Linked DNA regions of Homo sapiens: region 1 is linked to region 2. A link means that fine-mapping ties the variant in region 2 to the expression of a gene that starts in the linked region. Tissue or cell type: Th2 cells. Region 2 holds a variant in brackets; the other region holds the start of a gene. All regions are shown on one strand. Distances are from middle to middle.

Evidence for each region. PIP is the estimated chance that this variant, and not a neighbour inherited with it, causes the effect.
Region 1: RPS5 starts here. The variant in region 2 is fine-mapped to the expression of RPS5 in Th2 cells (Schmiedel 2018, PIP 0.93).

The regions. Positions count from the first base shown.
Region 1 is chr19:58,383,771-58,391,876 of GRCh38, forward strand. It overlaps RPS5 (ribosomal protein S5), which reads left to right and starts at 3,499. Exons shown (of 6, transcript NM_001009.4): 1 at 3,499-3,569; 2 at 4,367-4,475. The coding sequence starts at 4,368. MIR4754 (microRNA 4754) reads right to left here and starts at 3,088; the gene lies at 3,000-3,088. RefSeq lists enhancers at 1,900-2,119, 2,140-2,209, 3,272-3,566, 3,760-3,809.
Region 2 is chr19:58,008,245-58,016,350 of GRCh38, forward strand. It overlaps the pseudogene VN2R19P. Among named protein-coding and RNA genes, the nearest start is that of ZNF606-AS1, 9.4 kb to the left of the region's middle. RefSeq lists enhancers at 1,700-1,749, 1,760-1,819. The variant C/T (reference allele first, on the strand shown) is at 4,778.

The DNA.
Region 1 (8,106 bases), 380 kb after region 2:
ATTCTGTCACCCAGGCTGGAGTGAAGTGGTGCGATCTTGGCTCACTGCAACCTCCACCGCCCAGGTTCAAGTGATTCTCTTGCTTCAGCCTCCCGAGTAGCTGAGACTACAAGCGCCCGCCACCACGCCTGGCTAATTTTTTTGTATTTTTAGTAGAGATGGGGTTTCACTGTGTTAGCCAAGATGGTCTCGATCTCCTGACCTCGTGATGTGCCCGCCTCGGCCTCCCAAAGTGCTGGGATTACAGGCATGAGCCACCATGCCCGGCCCTCTTCTGTCTCTTATAAGGACACTTGTCATTGGATTTAGGGTCCACCCTACTAATCCTAGATGCTCTCATCTTGGGATCCTTGACTAAATTACATCTGCAAAGATTTTTTTCCAATAGGTCACATTCGCTGGGTCTGGGTATTAGGGCATGAACTTACCTTTTTGGGGGCCACCATTCAATCCATTACAGGTGGGCATCCCATAGAAGCAGACAGTGGCTAGGCCAAAGTAGCCCATGAAGTATCAGCCATGGGCACAAGATCAAGTTTGGGATGCGGCAGGGCCAGGCTTGGCTCTGCCAGGCAACTGGGTGGACTGAATCCAGCACACTCCAAACGAGTTGATAATCAGGCTGGGGACTTCAACAGACAACCAAGGTGCCAGTAAAGGCATTAAGGAGCTATCACGGCCAGGTGCGGTGGCTCACACCTGTAATCCCAGCACTTTGGGAGGCCGAGGCAGGCGGATCACGAGGTTAGGAGATCGAGACCATCCTGGCTAACAGTGAAACCCCATCTCTACTAAAAATACAAAAAAAATAGCCGGGCGTGGTGGCGGGCGCCTGTAGTCCCAGCTACTCGGGAGGCTGAGGCAGGAGAATGGCATGAACCCAGGAGGCGGAGCTTGCAGTGAGCCAAGATTGCGCCACTGCACTCCAGCCTGGGCAACAGAGTGAGACTCCGTCACAAAAAAAAAAAAGGAGCCATCACAAGGATGTAAGATCAGCTAACAGTAAGACTGTGGCTGGTAGGGTGGACAGGCAAAGTGACTGCCTGGAGAGTGGGCAGGTGGCCCAGCAGGGCCCAGAGGGTGCCTTCCCAGAAGTGAGGAGTCCAGTCTGGGGCCGGCCACTCAGGATGGACACAATGTACCAGAAGTGAGGTAGATCTCTGCAGAGTCTCTGGGGTCCTCATCCAGTCTGAAGAACACAGCACCAGCAGCCCTAGATCTATGAGGTCAGACTCTGCATCTTATCGTAGCACCTTGGGGACCTGGGGAGGCTGGACCACCCTGGACCTGGTGGCGGGGGTGGGGGGTGCATGAGTCTCGGCTCTGCAGTATTCACCACGCCACACTTGAGGGCACCTGCCCTCTGCAGCACGATGAGTCATTCTCATGAGGTCTGTAAAGATGTCCATTATCAAATGACCATGGTAGCCAGGCCACAGGGTTCACATTGACGTTGCCTCATTGCATTCTCATTTCCACACTGAAGGGGAAAACAGGTTCAGAGGGGTGGGCTCACTGTCCTGATGAGTGCTGCCTGTTTTCTCCCACCCTCCCTACAACCAGCACCCCCATGCCCCTCACTCAAGACCAGGGAGAAGCCCACCTAGCCCCTCCTGCAACCACACAGACCCCAGTGGGAGCCCCAAGGCTGCTACTCTGCACAGGATGGAGGGCAGGGGTAAAGGCCATTAGGCGGTGGCAGTAGGCCGTGCCCCTCACCAGAGGCTGAGGTCTGACCCCTTGACCAGCCCAGCTTCAGGGCATGTGTCCTTTCATGAGCTGTGACTGACCACAGTCCAAGGGCCCACTGTGGGGAGTCCTCAGCATATTTGGACAGAAACGCCCCAGAATTGGGGTAAGAAGAGCCTTTACAGTCAGGCAGTGAAGAAACACAGCTGCTGGGCACCTGCTATGTGCACGCCTCAGGGATGGGAGTAGGGGGCAGGCCCAGCCCTGGGACCTGGGTCAGGTGGCTGGGCCCTTCGGATCCCGAGTTGGAGGGATAACCCCTTGGAGGCAGAGATGGGCATCAGAGACAGGGCGGCCCCAGGTGGTCCTGGAGTCGCCTCGTAAAGGTTATGTCTATGCCTGCTGCAGGCAGAGACACAGTCAAAGTAGTTGCTACCTCTGGAAAGTCCCAGTTCTGCTCATGAGCCTAGATCTAAGAGGCTGGGACAGGCAGAGGGGTATGAAGGGGTCATGGGCAGGCAGACTGTCCACACTGGCTGCCAGGGTGGCCAAGTGAGTAGAGTGAGCTGGGGCACTCACTACCGTGCCAACCCCACGCACGGATGAGGACCCCGGGTCGAAGGCCCACATCCTCAATCCCACGCAATAGTTCAGGCCCTGTGAGAGGGTTCGCTGTCTGCTCCCAGCCAGGGCTGAGCTGTTCAGAGGCCCTACCTGTTCAGAGGCAGCTGGGGGAAGGGACAGAAGTTGGGGGGCAGGGGATTGTGTGCTGGCGGGAATAATCTCCTTCATCTCATGGCTAAATCTTCCATCCCTCCTTTCAACCTTTGGCCAGAAACCTACGTTTCTGACCCTTGGAGAGGTCGGCCAGTTCAAGAGGCACCCCTGAGAGCCACGTCTGCAGACACGAGGGCCTCGTGACGTGAGCCCTGAGGGCAGGGGGCTGCAACCCCTCGCGCGGGCTCCCCGGCCGTGGAGGACACAAGGACAAACACGAAGGGTCCCCGACCTGCCGACCCCCTCCTCCCGGACACCGCGCGTAGCCTGTAGGCTACCTCCGCGCTCCACCCAGAGACGGGTCGCGCTGCTCCCGCCGCCGCAACCCCGGGCCCTCGTGCCGGCGGTCTCCCCTCTTCCACGGGCGAGATTACTGCATAGCAGAGGTGAAGGGCGCGGAGGCTGTGGGGGAACCCAGCGTGGTATGGCAGGAAAGGTCGAGCAGGGAAACAGGCCCAGCCAGAGGCTCGGGATCCGGGGCTCGCGAGCGTGGTGCTCCTGGGCCGGGCGGTGGGGGAGGGGCCGCGTGTGGCAGGCACATGCGCACGGCAACCTGGACCTGCGGAGGGCGGCGGTGACCACTGGGCCTCACTCCGCTAACCCAGGTCCGCATCAGGCGCGTGCCGGTGAGGCGGCTGTGGCCGCGGCGAGGAGTCAGAGGGAACTGAACTGGCTACTCCCGCGGCAGGTGGGATTTAAGGTCAGCAGCTGAACAAAGAAGCGAGCGCTGGCCAGACTTTTTTCTTTATTAGACATGGCTGCGTTGGTCTCACGGAAATCTCTGCGCTTTTGCAGGCGCCCACAAGACAGGGCAACTACGGGGTAGCGGACATCCGCCAGGCACGCTTCTAGGGCCGCTTCTGCAACTGCGCATGCGCTTGGGCTGCACCCATTCCGTCTAGCCCAAAAGGTTCCTCTACAACCTTCCTCCGGATTGGTCTATAGGGACACGATGGCCTTTTACGCAAGCGTCACCCGTGCTGACCCGGAAGTTTTCTTCCCAGTTAAAAGTGTTGGCCCGCGGCGCGCGGCCTCTTCCTGTCTGTACCAGGGCGGCGCGTGGTCTACGCCGAGTGACAGAGACGCTCAGGCTGTGTTCTCAGGTGAGACCGCCGCGGGGCCGGGGATCCTAGGGACGGTTCATGGTCTTTCGGGGATAGTGCCCCGCGGCCTGGGCCTTTTCTCATTAGGTCTCATTTCTGTCTCTGGAAAAGAAAATGTAGAAGAAACGGGCGCGGGCCGAGTTACTCTTGACTTCTTTCTGGTGCTCCGCCGCTTCTAGCTTTTCCCCATAGCGGGGCTTGGGGAACTTGGTTTGAACTATGCGGTTGTACTCTGAGATAGGAAGTTTCCATTTCTTAGGGACACGATGCCCTCTTTTGCTCTGTGTAACTTTCCCCCCGTAATAGCAGCCCCTAGAGCCTTCATACTGTCGGTCAAGAATCGAAACCTTTGGGTTGATTGTGCCACACGGTACCTACCGTGGTCCTTGATGTCATATAACGGTCCCGCCTCACGGCCAAAGAAACAGTCCGAGACGGAACGTTGACTTGGGTCAAAGACCATGTAAATCGCGAGATTGTGGTTTGAATTACAGCCCATGCAGTGTGAGGACGTATGGCATCTGCTGAGCCATTATACCTTGGTCCCAGTGCAGCAGCTGTTGACTGGTGGCTGCCAAGTCTTGGGCCCAGGGGTTCTAGGTGAAAGACAGATGCTTCTTGCTGACAGCTGAGTAATTTTTCTAGTGCTTGAAAACACGTTCACGGCCTTTCTTGGTCCTTTGCGACCCCCCAGTTCATCACTAGATGGCGGCTAGCCTCAGAGTTGGGAATGAGTGCGCCTTTGCTCCATGCTAGCTGAGCTCTGACGTTTTTTTCCTGTCATCACCCTGTCCCAGGATGACCGAGTGGGAGACAGCAGCACCAGCGGTGGCAGAGACCCCAGACATCAAGCTCTTTGGGAAGTGGAGCACCGATGATGTGCAGATCAATGACATTTCCCTGCAGGTGAGGGGAACTTGGTGATTGGCCTTCCTGGCTGGGGGCGGACATTATTCCAGGAAGGCACACATCAAACTTGTTGCTGTGCCATTAAGTCAAGAATAGAGATCATAACAGGTAAAGAAGGGATCCCTTGACCACCACATCTACCACATCTGCTCTTACGTCCTGTTCAAAGATGACTACAACTTCTGTCATGAGAGGACTCCTTCACCAGAAGGAGCATCACATCTCACATATGGTATTTTTGTTACTGTTTTTGTAGTAAAATACATAACATCCAGTGTCATTCTTTTGCATGTGAATATCCAGTTATCCAGTACCATCTCCTAAAGAGATGTTTTTTTTCCCTCAATTGAATGGCCTTGGCCACTTGTCATAAATCAGCTGGCCGTAGTTTTTTTTTTTTTTTTTTTTTTTTGAGACGGAGTCTCACTCTGTTCCCTGGGCTGGAGTGCAGTGACGCGATCTGCCTACCGGGTTCACACCATTCTCCTGCCTCAGCCTCCTGAGTAGCTGGGACTACAGGTGCCCGCCACTGCACCTGGCTGATTTTTTTTTTTTTATTTTTAGTAGAGACAGGGTTTCACCGAGTTAGCCAGGATGGTCTCGATCTCCTGACCTCGTGATCCGCCCGTCTCGGCCTCCCAAAGTGCTGGGATTACAGGCGTGAGCCACCGCGCCCGGCCCAGATGTATGGGTTTCATTACAGACTTTCAGTTATATTCCACTGGTCTATATGTCTGTCTCTATGCCAGTACCACACTTTCTTGCTTTGTATTAAGTTTTGCAATTGGGAAGTGTGAGTTGTCCTACTTTGTTCCTACTCCGTACGGTTTTACACATACCCTTTTTTTCCCCTCCCCATGAAGGCATCATTAAGAATTTTGTGGGCCTTAAGAACTTTAGCTTTTGTGAGCCCTTCCTCCATTAAAAGAAAGTGTTTGAAATTATATTTTGTGACTGCATTGATATAAAGATGAATATAACTTGGGTTGCACTTTATTCACTTTCCTCCTCTTTTTTTTTAATCATTAAAGTTTTATCTTTGAGATAAGATCACTCTCTGTCACCCAGGCTGGAGTGCAGTGGTGTGATCACAGTTCACTGCAGCCTCAATACACCTGGGCTCAGGGGATCTTCCTGTCTTAGACTCCAACTAGCTGGGACCAAAGATGCATGCCACCAAACCTGCTACCTTTTGTTTTATAAAGAATGAAAACTTTTTTGTTGTCTGTAAAGATGTCAGGGGACTTAGGCACTATGCCTAATGGATAATTCAGCCTTGTTTTTCACTCTGAATATCTTGTAGATCTTGGCTTTTCTTTCCTTCAGGGGTTTATTTCGGGGGGTCCAAAAACATTTTAAATATTATTATTATTTTTTGTTTGTTTATTTATTTATTTATTTTTTTGAAACGGAGTTTCGCTCTTATTGCCCAGGCTGGAGTGCAATGGCACGATCTTAGCTCACCACAACCTCCGCCTCCCGGGTTCAAGCAATGCTCCCGCCTCAGCCTCCCAAGTAGCTGAGATTACAGGCGCACACCACCACGCCTGGCTAATTTTTGTATTTTTAGTAGAGACGGGGTTTCACCATGTTGGTTAGGCTGGTCTCGAACTCCTGACCTCATGATCTGCCCGGCCACATTTTAATTATTTATTTATTTTTTGAGACAGAGTTTCGTTCTTGTCGCCCAGTCTGGAGTGCAATGGTGCGATCTTGGCTCACTGCAACCTCTGCCTCCTGGGTTCAAGCGATTCTCCTGTCTCAGCCTCCCAAGTAGCGGGGATTACAGGCACATGCCACCGCACCCAGCTAATTTTTTTATTTTTAGTTGAGACAGGGTTTCATCATATTGGTCAGGCTGGTCTCTTAACTCCTGACTTCAGGTGATCAGCCTGCCTCAGCCTCCCAAAGTGCTGGGATTACAGGCATGAGCCACCACGCCTGGCGTTATTTATTTATTTGTGAGACAGAGTCTCTCTCTGCCTCCCAGGCTGGAGTGCAGTGGTGCGATCTCGGCTCACTGCAACCTCTGCCTCCCCAGGGTCATGCGACTTTCCTGCCTCAGCCTCCCGAAGTGCTGGGGTTATAGGCATGAGCCACTGCGCCCAGCCCACAAACATTTTCATTATAGGCCCAGATAATGTTTTAGACTTTGTGGGCCACACTGGCCACTGTTACTTTTTTTTTTTTTTTTTTTTTTTTTTTTTGAGATGGAGTCGCTCTGTCACCCAGGCTGGAGTGCAGTGGCACGATCTCGGCTCACTGCAACCTCCACCTCCTAGGTTCAGGTGATTTTCCTGCCTCAGCCTCCCTAGTAGCTGGAACTACAGGTGCATGCCACCACACCTGGCTAATTTTTGTCTTTTTAGTAGAGACAGGGTTTCACCATGTTGGCCAGGCTGGCCTTGAACTCCTTGATCTATTAAACGTTTGTTAAGTGCCTGTTCCACTAGGGAAATAAACATCAATGGGAGTTCACTGTATTTTAAACACCTGTGCAGGGCTCCACTGTTGGGCCAAACCCTTCCTGGGGAATTTGGTGTTTGCAATTTTTTGCTGCATAGTGAAAGCCCTGCGTGAATGCCCTTCACGAGACTGTGAGTTTTTTTTTTCTTGCAGCCAGACTATGAAATAGTACTGAGAGTTTCAGTGTCCTGTGTTCTTTTCCCATCATTCCTTGTATTTGTAGAAACAGGTATTTTGTGTATATTCTCAGAGGCAAGTGATAGAATGGCCTTGGGTACATTTTGTAATGGAACTATCAACAGCAGTCTCCTTCGAATGCACATAGCTCCTTTCTTCCCCTTTACATACTCAAGGTTAACTTTTTGGCATTTTTCTAGATTTTTGTGTGGGGATGGCTATGTAAGTATAAGAAGACTTGTTAAATGATTGTTTTAAAACTGTGGTTCTGGGCCGGGCGCCGTAATCCCAGCACTTTGGGAGACTGAGGCGGGCAGATCATCTGAGGTCAGGGGTTTGAGACCAGCCTGGCCAACATGGTGAAGCCCCGTCTCTACTAAAAATACAAAAATTAGCCTTGCATGGTGGCGTGCACCTGTTGTCCCAGCTACTTAGGAGGCTGATGCAGGAGAATCGCTTGAACCTGGGAGGTGGAGGTTGGGATGAGCTGAAATCATGCCATTGCACTCCAGCCTGGCCAACAAGAGCGAAACTCCATCTCAAAAAAAAAAAAAAAAAAAACTGGGCTGAGCATGGTGACGCATGTCTGTAATCCCAGCAACTTGGGAGGCTGAGGCAGGAGAATTGCTTCAACCCAGGAGGTGGAGGTTGCAGTGAGCCAAGATTGCAACGTTGCACTCCAGCCTGGGTGACAGAGTGAGACTCCATCTCAAAAACAAACAAACAAAAAACCCAAAAACAAAAAAGTTCTCAGCCAGGTGCAGTGGCTTATGCCTGTAATCCCATCACTTTGGGAGGCTGAGGCGGACGGATCACCTGAGGTCAAGAGTTCAAGACCAGCCTGGCCAACATGTCCAAACCCCAGCTCTACTAAAAATACAAAAATTAGCCTGGCATGGTGGCATGCACCTGTAGTCCCAGCTACTCAGGAAGCTGAGGCAGGAGAATTGCTTGAACCTGGGAGGCGGAGGTTTCAGTGAGCCAA
Region 2 (8,106 bases):
TAGAACAAAAGCCCTGGTGTGAGGGCCTGCCTAGTCAGCTGCGGGAACAACAGTGGTCATAGAGGCAATAAGGGGGCCAGATGGTAGAGAAAGTTGAAGGCATCATGAGGGCTCTGGCAGGGTTCTGAGTAGAGCATTGATGAGCTCTAGCCTCTGTATGGAGAGTAACCAAGGAAAGCAGTAGAGTCATGTGTGAAACCAATGTAGTAATTAGGTGGAAGATGATAGCCGCTCGGATCAGATTGGTGATCAGTGGCTGGATTGCGGACATGCTGATACTTTAAAGGTAGAGCCAACAGACCGTAGGTTCAAGGTTTTGCATCATAAGGGGCAATATAGCCTGTAATGTTCAGAAGGAGTCAAGAAATAAAGGAGGCCTCTCAATACAGAGCTATTCACCAAGGGCCTTGATGGGGAGGAAGTAAGTTGCAAGTGTGTGGAGATACTGCTCCCTTCTGGCCCAAGCTCCCTCCCACTCCAGTTACCCAGTGTTGCGGGCAGCACCCTATTCTCTTCTGGGAGGTAGCGGAGGCAGAGCCACACCATCATTTTGGATGCACCTATTATGGGAGGCTGGAGTGCAATGGTGCCATCTTGGCTCACTACAACCTCCGCCTCCCAGGTTCAAGGGATTCTGCCTCAGCCTCCTGAGTAACTGGGGTTACAGGCGCGCGATACCACGCCTGGCTAATTTTTCTATTTTTAGTAGAGATGGGGTTTCGCCATGTTGGCCACGCTGGTCTTAAACTCCTGACCTCAAGTGATCCGCCCGCCTTGGTCTTCCAAAGTGCTGGGATTACAGGTGTGAGTCACCGTGCCCAGCCTGGACTTGCCTTTTACCTCATCCGTGGTGTCTTTTGAAGAAAAAGATTCTTTAGAAATGTTTTTTCTTTCATAGCTTGTGTTTTATGTATTACTTTCAAGATCCCAACTAGATCTAGGTCCTAAAAATAGTATCCTACCTATTGTTTTTTTAATCAACTTAATTGTGGTATAATTGCACACTGCAGATAAACTGCACATGTTTGAAGTGAGTAATGTAAGTTTTTTTGTCTTGGAGCCCTGAGGTAAACTTTTATTTCTTAGCTGACAGGACTTCCACACCCATGCTCCTCTCGGCACCTTTCACCCAGCCCAAGCAGCGGCGGCCCAGTGGTGGAAAAGGTGCCACGGCCAAACGGATTGGAGACTCACCCCGCATTCTAGGCCGGAGAAGCGGGCGGGCTTGGGATGCCGGCAGGAGGCAATGACTCTCCCCAGGCGCTGCATCCTGGCTCCGGGGCACAAGCGCCTCTCCGCCCTGACGCTGATGCTCGTCTGGCTGCCCGTTCTTTGGCATCAAAATACCAGACGATGGTGGCGCACCCTGTGGCCTGGGCTGCCTCACCTCATTCGGTCCCGCCTAGAAAGACCAGAGGACCAGAAAACCAGAAGCCTGTCAGAGCGACTAGAGGCTGGCTCCAGCCAACAGCCGCGCGCCTCAGCGTCCACGAGGGTTACCTGGGTAACGCGCCGCTTGGGCTCGGCGCCCAGCCGATGACGTAACCCGCGCTTGCGTAGTGGCGCCGCCCTGATGTGTAGTCTCCAGGCCGCCCCGAACACCAGCCCAGCGGGTCCTGGACCCCTAGGTCATGTGGCTACAGTGGAATCCAGGCTTGGCCGAATCCAGGACGACCAGGCCAGACCCACCGGCAGTACCTTGCCCGCCCGCTTTAGTCACTTGCTCTAGGTGGATCTAAACCTCTAGGCCTGGGCGCGGTGGCTCACGCTTGTAATCCCGGCACTTTAGGAGGGCAAGGCGGCAGAATCGCTTGAGCCCCCGGCAGCATGGAGAGGTGGCAGAGGCAGGGCCATACCATCATCTTGGGTGCACCTATTATGGGAGGCTGGAGTGCAATGGTGCCATCTTGGCTCACTGCAACCTCCGCCCCCCAGGTTCAAGCGATTCTGCCTCAGCCTCCTGAGTAACTGGGATCATAGGCGCACGCTACCACGCCCGGCTAATTTTTCTATTTTTAGTAGACATGGGGTTTCGCCACCCCCGGCAGCATGGGTAGACATGGCCCTCCCGCCTGATCTCTTAAAAAAACTTTAAATAATTCGTGGGGGGGGTTACCGCCCACCTGTTTTCCCAGCTACTCCGGAGGCTGCGGTGGAAGGATCACCTGAGCCCAGGAGGTCAAGACTGCAGTGAGCTATGATCCTGCCACTGCACTCCAGCCTGGGCGACAGCGTGAGATCCTGTCTCCAAAATAAATAAAATTATGTACATATGTATGTATATTTAATTACATATATTTTGTATAATTTGTATATAGTTTATAATATATACATGTATGTGTACACATACATAAATATATGCGTAAATATATATATGCATATATATATGTAATAAAATATTAAGAACCCGCCCAGCCGAAGCCACGGGCGCTTTGGGCCCTCGGTTGGCCTCAGCCACTTCAGTCGCGGCCCCGGGGATGTTGGGGGAACCCTGTCAGGCAGCAAGCGCGTCCTCCAGCCCCGGGCGGCCGGCGGCTGTGCACCCGCCCTCCCTCCCTCCCACGGCGCTCGCCTGCATGCGTTTTGGCAAATATCTAAACCCGCAAAACCATCACTAGCTCTGGTTTCCCAAGATCCTTGAAGCCCCTCCGTTCAGCATTCCACGCCCCTCTCTGCCCTGCTTTCAAACCACCGCCAATCTGCTTTCTGTTATATATACAGATTAGTTTGGATTTTCTAACAGTTGTATATAAATGCAGTGACACATTTGAGTGTACTCTTTTGTGATCTGGTTTATTTTACTCAGCATAATTATTTTGAGATTATCCATTTTGTTGCATATGTAAGTAGCTCATTCCTTCTATTGCTGAGTGGTGTTCCATCTCATGGATGCACCACCATTGTTTATCACGCATCTGTCCGTGGACATGTAAACTGTTTTCTATTTGCGGCTGTTAAAAATAAACTTCTGTGAACATTCGTGTACAAGTCTTCCTAAGGACACGCATTTCCTTTCCTGTTGGATAAATGCCTAGGCGTAGAATGGCTGGATCATATAGGAAATGAAAATTCAACTTTTTTTTTTTGAGATGGAGTCTCACTCTGTCGCCCGGACTGGAGTGGAGTGGCGCGATCTCGGCTCACTGCAAACTCCGCCTCCGCGGTTCACACCATTCTCCTGCCTCGGCCTCCCGAGTAGCTGGGACTACAGGCGCCCACCACCACACCAAGCTAATTTTTTCATTTTAGTAGAGACGGGGTTTCACCGTGTTAGCCAGGATGGTCTCAATCTCCTGACCTCGTGATCCACCCGCCTCAGCCTTCCGAAGTGCTGGATTACAGGCGTGAGCCACCATGCCCCACGAAAGTTCAACATTTTAAGAAACTCTCCATTTGTTTTCCAAAGTGTTTGTACCGTTTCACATTCCCACCAGCAATACACAGATGCTCCTGAACTACGATAGGGTTAGGTCCAAATAAGCCCATGGTAAACTGAAAATACCATGAATCAAATGATTTACAATACCCAAATAAATCCGTCAAGTTGAGGAGAGTACTGAATTTGTATAGCTTGTATACCATCATAATTTTGAAAAATCATAAGTTGAATCATGGACAAGGACTGTATAAGAGTTGTAATTCCTCCATATCCTTGGCAACATGATATGGTTTATTTTTTGCAATTCTAATAGGTGTGTATTGGGTATTGCACTGTAGTTTTGATTTCCCTAATTACTAACATTAAACATCTTTTCATATACTTCCTTTCCATTTGCATATTTTGTGGTGAACTGTGTTCAAATGCTTTGCTTGGCTTTAAAAAAAAAGTAGCTGAAATTGCTTGTTTTCTTATTGTTGAATTTTATCTTTTATTCTTTTTTTTTTTTTTTTTTTTTTTTTTTGAGATGGAGTCTTGCTCTGTCACCCAGGCTGGAGTGCAATGGCATGATCTTGGCTCACTGCAACCTCTGCCACCCAGGTTCAAGTGATTCTCCTGCCTCAGCCTCCCAAGTAGCTGGGATTATAGGTGCACACCACGACACCTGGTTAATTTTTGTATTTTGAGTACAGACAGGGTTTCACCATGTTGGCCAGGCTGGTCTTGAACTCCTGACCTCAAGTGATCTGCCCATCTCAGCCTCCCAAAGTGGTAGGATTACAGGCGTGAGCCACCACGCCCATCCTTTAACTATCTTTTAATCCACACAGAAGCCCAGAGCTCAAATCAGGGGCCCTGATATCTTCAACAAGGCCTGGCTCGTGGGTTTATGGCGCAGGTCTGAGGAGCTCCTGGCTCCACGTTTCCCACCGATCCCAGTGTCCTCGCCTCACCCAGTCTGGGGCATTCCGCTCGGGCTTTAGCAGGATGATGTAACATTTGGGGCAAAGATGCCACCCAGCAGCCCTGCCATGGAAGCCAGGATGGAAAAGATCTCCACGGCCACAGTGGACTTGCCCTGTGCGCTGTGGTACAGGGGCAGGAAGGTTGTCCAGAAGCTGCAGAACAGCAGCACGCTGAAGGTGAGGAACTTGGACTTGTTGAAGGCGTCTGGCAGACCCCTGGCCAGGAAGGCTACAAAGAAGGTGCCCCCAGCCAGGAGGCCCAGGTAGCCCAGCACACAGGAGAAAGCGACAGCAGAGCCCTCTCAGCACTGGATGACAATGTGGCTGGGCTCTGAGGCCATGTCCCCATCTGGGAATGGTGGGGAAGTGCCCAGCCAGATGCCACAGAGAACAACCTGCACCAAGGAAGCAGCAAGGACCACCGAGGTGGAAG[C/T]GCCAGGTCCCAGGCACACCCAGACCCTGTCACCTGGTGACCCTGAAGGCCAGGACGGAAGAGACAGCCATGGTGAACACAACAGCAACTGTGGTCTGGTAGAGGCGGCAGGTGGCAGCTGTGGGACAACCAAGGCAAGGCAAGGGACAGAGGGCACAGAGGGTCAGGGAGGTGAGCGGCGTGCAGCTGAGAGCTCTGTTGTTGGCCCCGACCACAGGTGTGTCTCGGTGCTTCAGAACAGTCTGAGGACCAGCACTGCCAGGCTGGCCAGCATGAGCGCCACCAAGGCGAGCATGAGTCCCAGGGGGTCGTCAAAGGCCAGGAAGGTCTCTGTCCTGGGCAGGCAGCCATCTCTGGTGCGGCTTGAGTACTGCTCCTCTGGGCACAGAAGACATCTCTTCGTACCTGTGGGAGACACACATCCCTGCGTCTGCCACAGGATCGTAATGACACCAGCCATGTGAAGGAAGGCTCCCTATGCACTAAACCAGCCTTACCAGCGTTTCACACCTATTCATTACTGATTGAAGGGGGCCTGCCCCTCCACACCTGTGGGTATTTCTCGCAAGGTGGAGACAAGAGACTGAGAAAAGAAATAAGACACAGAGACAAAGTGTAGAGAAAGAAAAGTGGGCCCAGGGGACCGGCACTCAGCATACAGAGGACCCACACCAGCAGCAGTCTGAGTTCCCTCAGTATTTATTGATCACTATCTCTACCATCTTGGCAAGGGGGATGTGGCAGGACTACACGGTAATGGTGGGGAGAGGGTCAGCAGGAAAACATGTGAGCAAAGGACTCTGTGTCATAAATAAGTTTAAGGAAAGGTGCTGTGCCTGTGATGTAACCAAGCAAGTTATAGAGAAACGCCACACTTTGAGACTAATTCAGGAGTCCTTTATCAGCCGGTGACCGAGAGATGGCTAGTGCTCAAAATTCTCTCAGCCCCGAAGAAGGGGCTAGATTTTCTTTTATACTTTGGTTTAGAGGAGGGGGAACCTAGCTGTAGCAATCTTACAGAAGTAAAGCAGGCAAAAAAAAAAGTTAAAAAGACAAATGGTTACAGGAAAACAAACAGTTCCAGGTACAGAGGCTTTAAATCCATCACAAGGTGATAGGTGCGGGGGCTCTGGGTGCTATCTGCCAGACACAAACGCGGGGGCTTTAGGGTACTATTACCCCAGTGAATTCCTGGCAACTGCAGACATAGCCTGCCACAGTACCTTATCAGTTAATTGCACTCTTTGATATGCTGAGAGTCAGCTTGCTCAAGTTAAGTCCTTGAGGAAGGGAGTGGGTAAGGAGCCCTTGAGGTCTTGCAAATGAAGGAGCTAAATGGAGTCCATCCAGCTTTCTCAGCTAAGAGAGAGTATTCATATTAAAACAAGGTATGGTATCACACCTGGATGTGCACGTAGGCCAGATTTATGTTTGACTTTACCCAAACACCTCAGTGCAGTAAAGAGCAGTACTGCCACCAGCATGTCTCACCTCCAGCCGTAAGACAGTTTTCTCCTATCCCAGTAAATGGAATGTACAATCAGGTTTTCTACCGAGACATTCCATTCCCAGGGATGAGGAGCAGGAGACAGAGGCTTTCCTCTTATCTCAAGTGCAAAGAGGCCTTCCTCTTTCACTAATCCTCCTCAGCATAGACCCTTTACAGGTGTCAGGCTGGGGGACGGTAAGGTCTTTCCCTTCCCACGAGGCCACATCTCAGGCTGTCTCAGGGGGGCAAACCTTGGACAATACCCAGGCTTTCTCAGGCAGAGGTCCCTGCGGCCTTCCGCAGTGCATTGTGTCCCTGGGTACTCGAGACTGGAGAATGGCGATGACTTTTACCAAGCATACTGCCTGCAAACACATGTTTACCAAGGCACATCCTGCACAGCCCTAACTCCATTAAACCTTGAGTCAATACAGCACGTTTCTGTGAGCACAGGGTTGGGGCTAGGGTTACAGATTAACAACATCTCAAGGCAGAAGAATTTTTCTTAGTACAGATCAAAATGGAGTTTCTTATGTCTTCCTTTTTCTACATAGACACAGTAACAGTCTGATCTCTTTCTTTCCCCCACAGATTTATAATTTTGAGATACCAGTGATGGGATGGGCCACATTAGATCCTGAGGCACAAGGAAAAATACACGCCCCGTATACATGTTTGCATGTTTTTTTAAAATGGTTAATTTTTTCCAAGTAGTAACAACAACTGCTCTTTTTGTTTTGTTGTTTGAGACAGGGTCTCACTCTTGACACCCAGGCTGGAAAGCAGTGGCTCGATCACAGCTCACTGCAACCTCCACCTCCCAGGTAAAGCCATCTTCCCCCTCAGCCTCCCAAGTAGCTGGAACTACAGGCATGCACCACCACACCCAGCTATTTTTTTTATTATTGTTTTTGTAAAGACAGGGGCCTCACCCTGTTGCCCAGGCTGGTCTTGAACTCCTGGACTCAAGCAATCCTTCCACCTTGGCCTCTCAAAGTGCTGGGATTACAGGTCTGAGCCACCACACTCGGCTGCACTCGGACTTTTGAACCATAAAAACTGTGAGATAAGAAATGTGCTTTGTTTCATACGCTTGTGGTAATTTGTTAACAGCAGCTATAGAAACTAATGCAGGGAGCAACTGGGCATTGCCTACACTCACAGTGGGAGTGTGAACTGGAAGCACCACCAGTGTCTGTTAAAGCCACAGGTATGGCCTGGCATGGTGCCTCATGCCTATAATCCCTGCACTTTGGGAAGCTGAGGCAGGAGGATTGCTTGAGCTCAGGAGTTCAAGAACAGCCTGGGAAACATAATGAGTCCCTGTCTCTATAAAAATAATTTTTTAAAAAATTAGCCAAGCATGGTGGGGTGGCATGTACGTGTAGTCCCAGCTACTCGGGAGGCTGAGGTAGGAGGATCTCTTGAGCCCAGATCAAGGCTGCAGTGAACCACGTTCACACCACTGCACTCCAGCCTGGGCAACAGAGTGAGACCTCTTCTCAAATAAAAGAAAAAAAAAAGCTGCAGGTATGTCTACCTGTGGCCCAGCAATGCCACACCCAACAGAAATTCACCTGTATGTCCCCAAAAGACACAACAATGAGACACGGCTCATTGCAGCCGCTGATCAGCAGGCTTCTCAAATCCCCCATCCCTGTTGGAGTGGATGAAGCAGCCGTGGTGCGTCCGCACAATGGGATCTCACCAGTCATTAGAACAAGAGATCCACAACCACACATAACCACCACTAGGATGAATCTCACAAACAACTGGGAGGAAAAAGCAAGACACAAAAGAACACTCACTGTGTGATTCCACTTATAGGACGTTTAAAAAT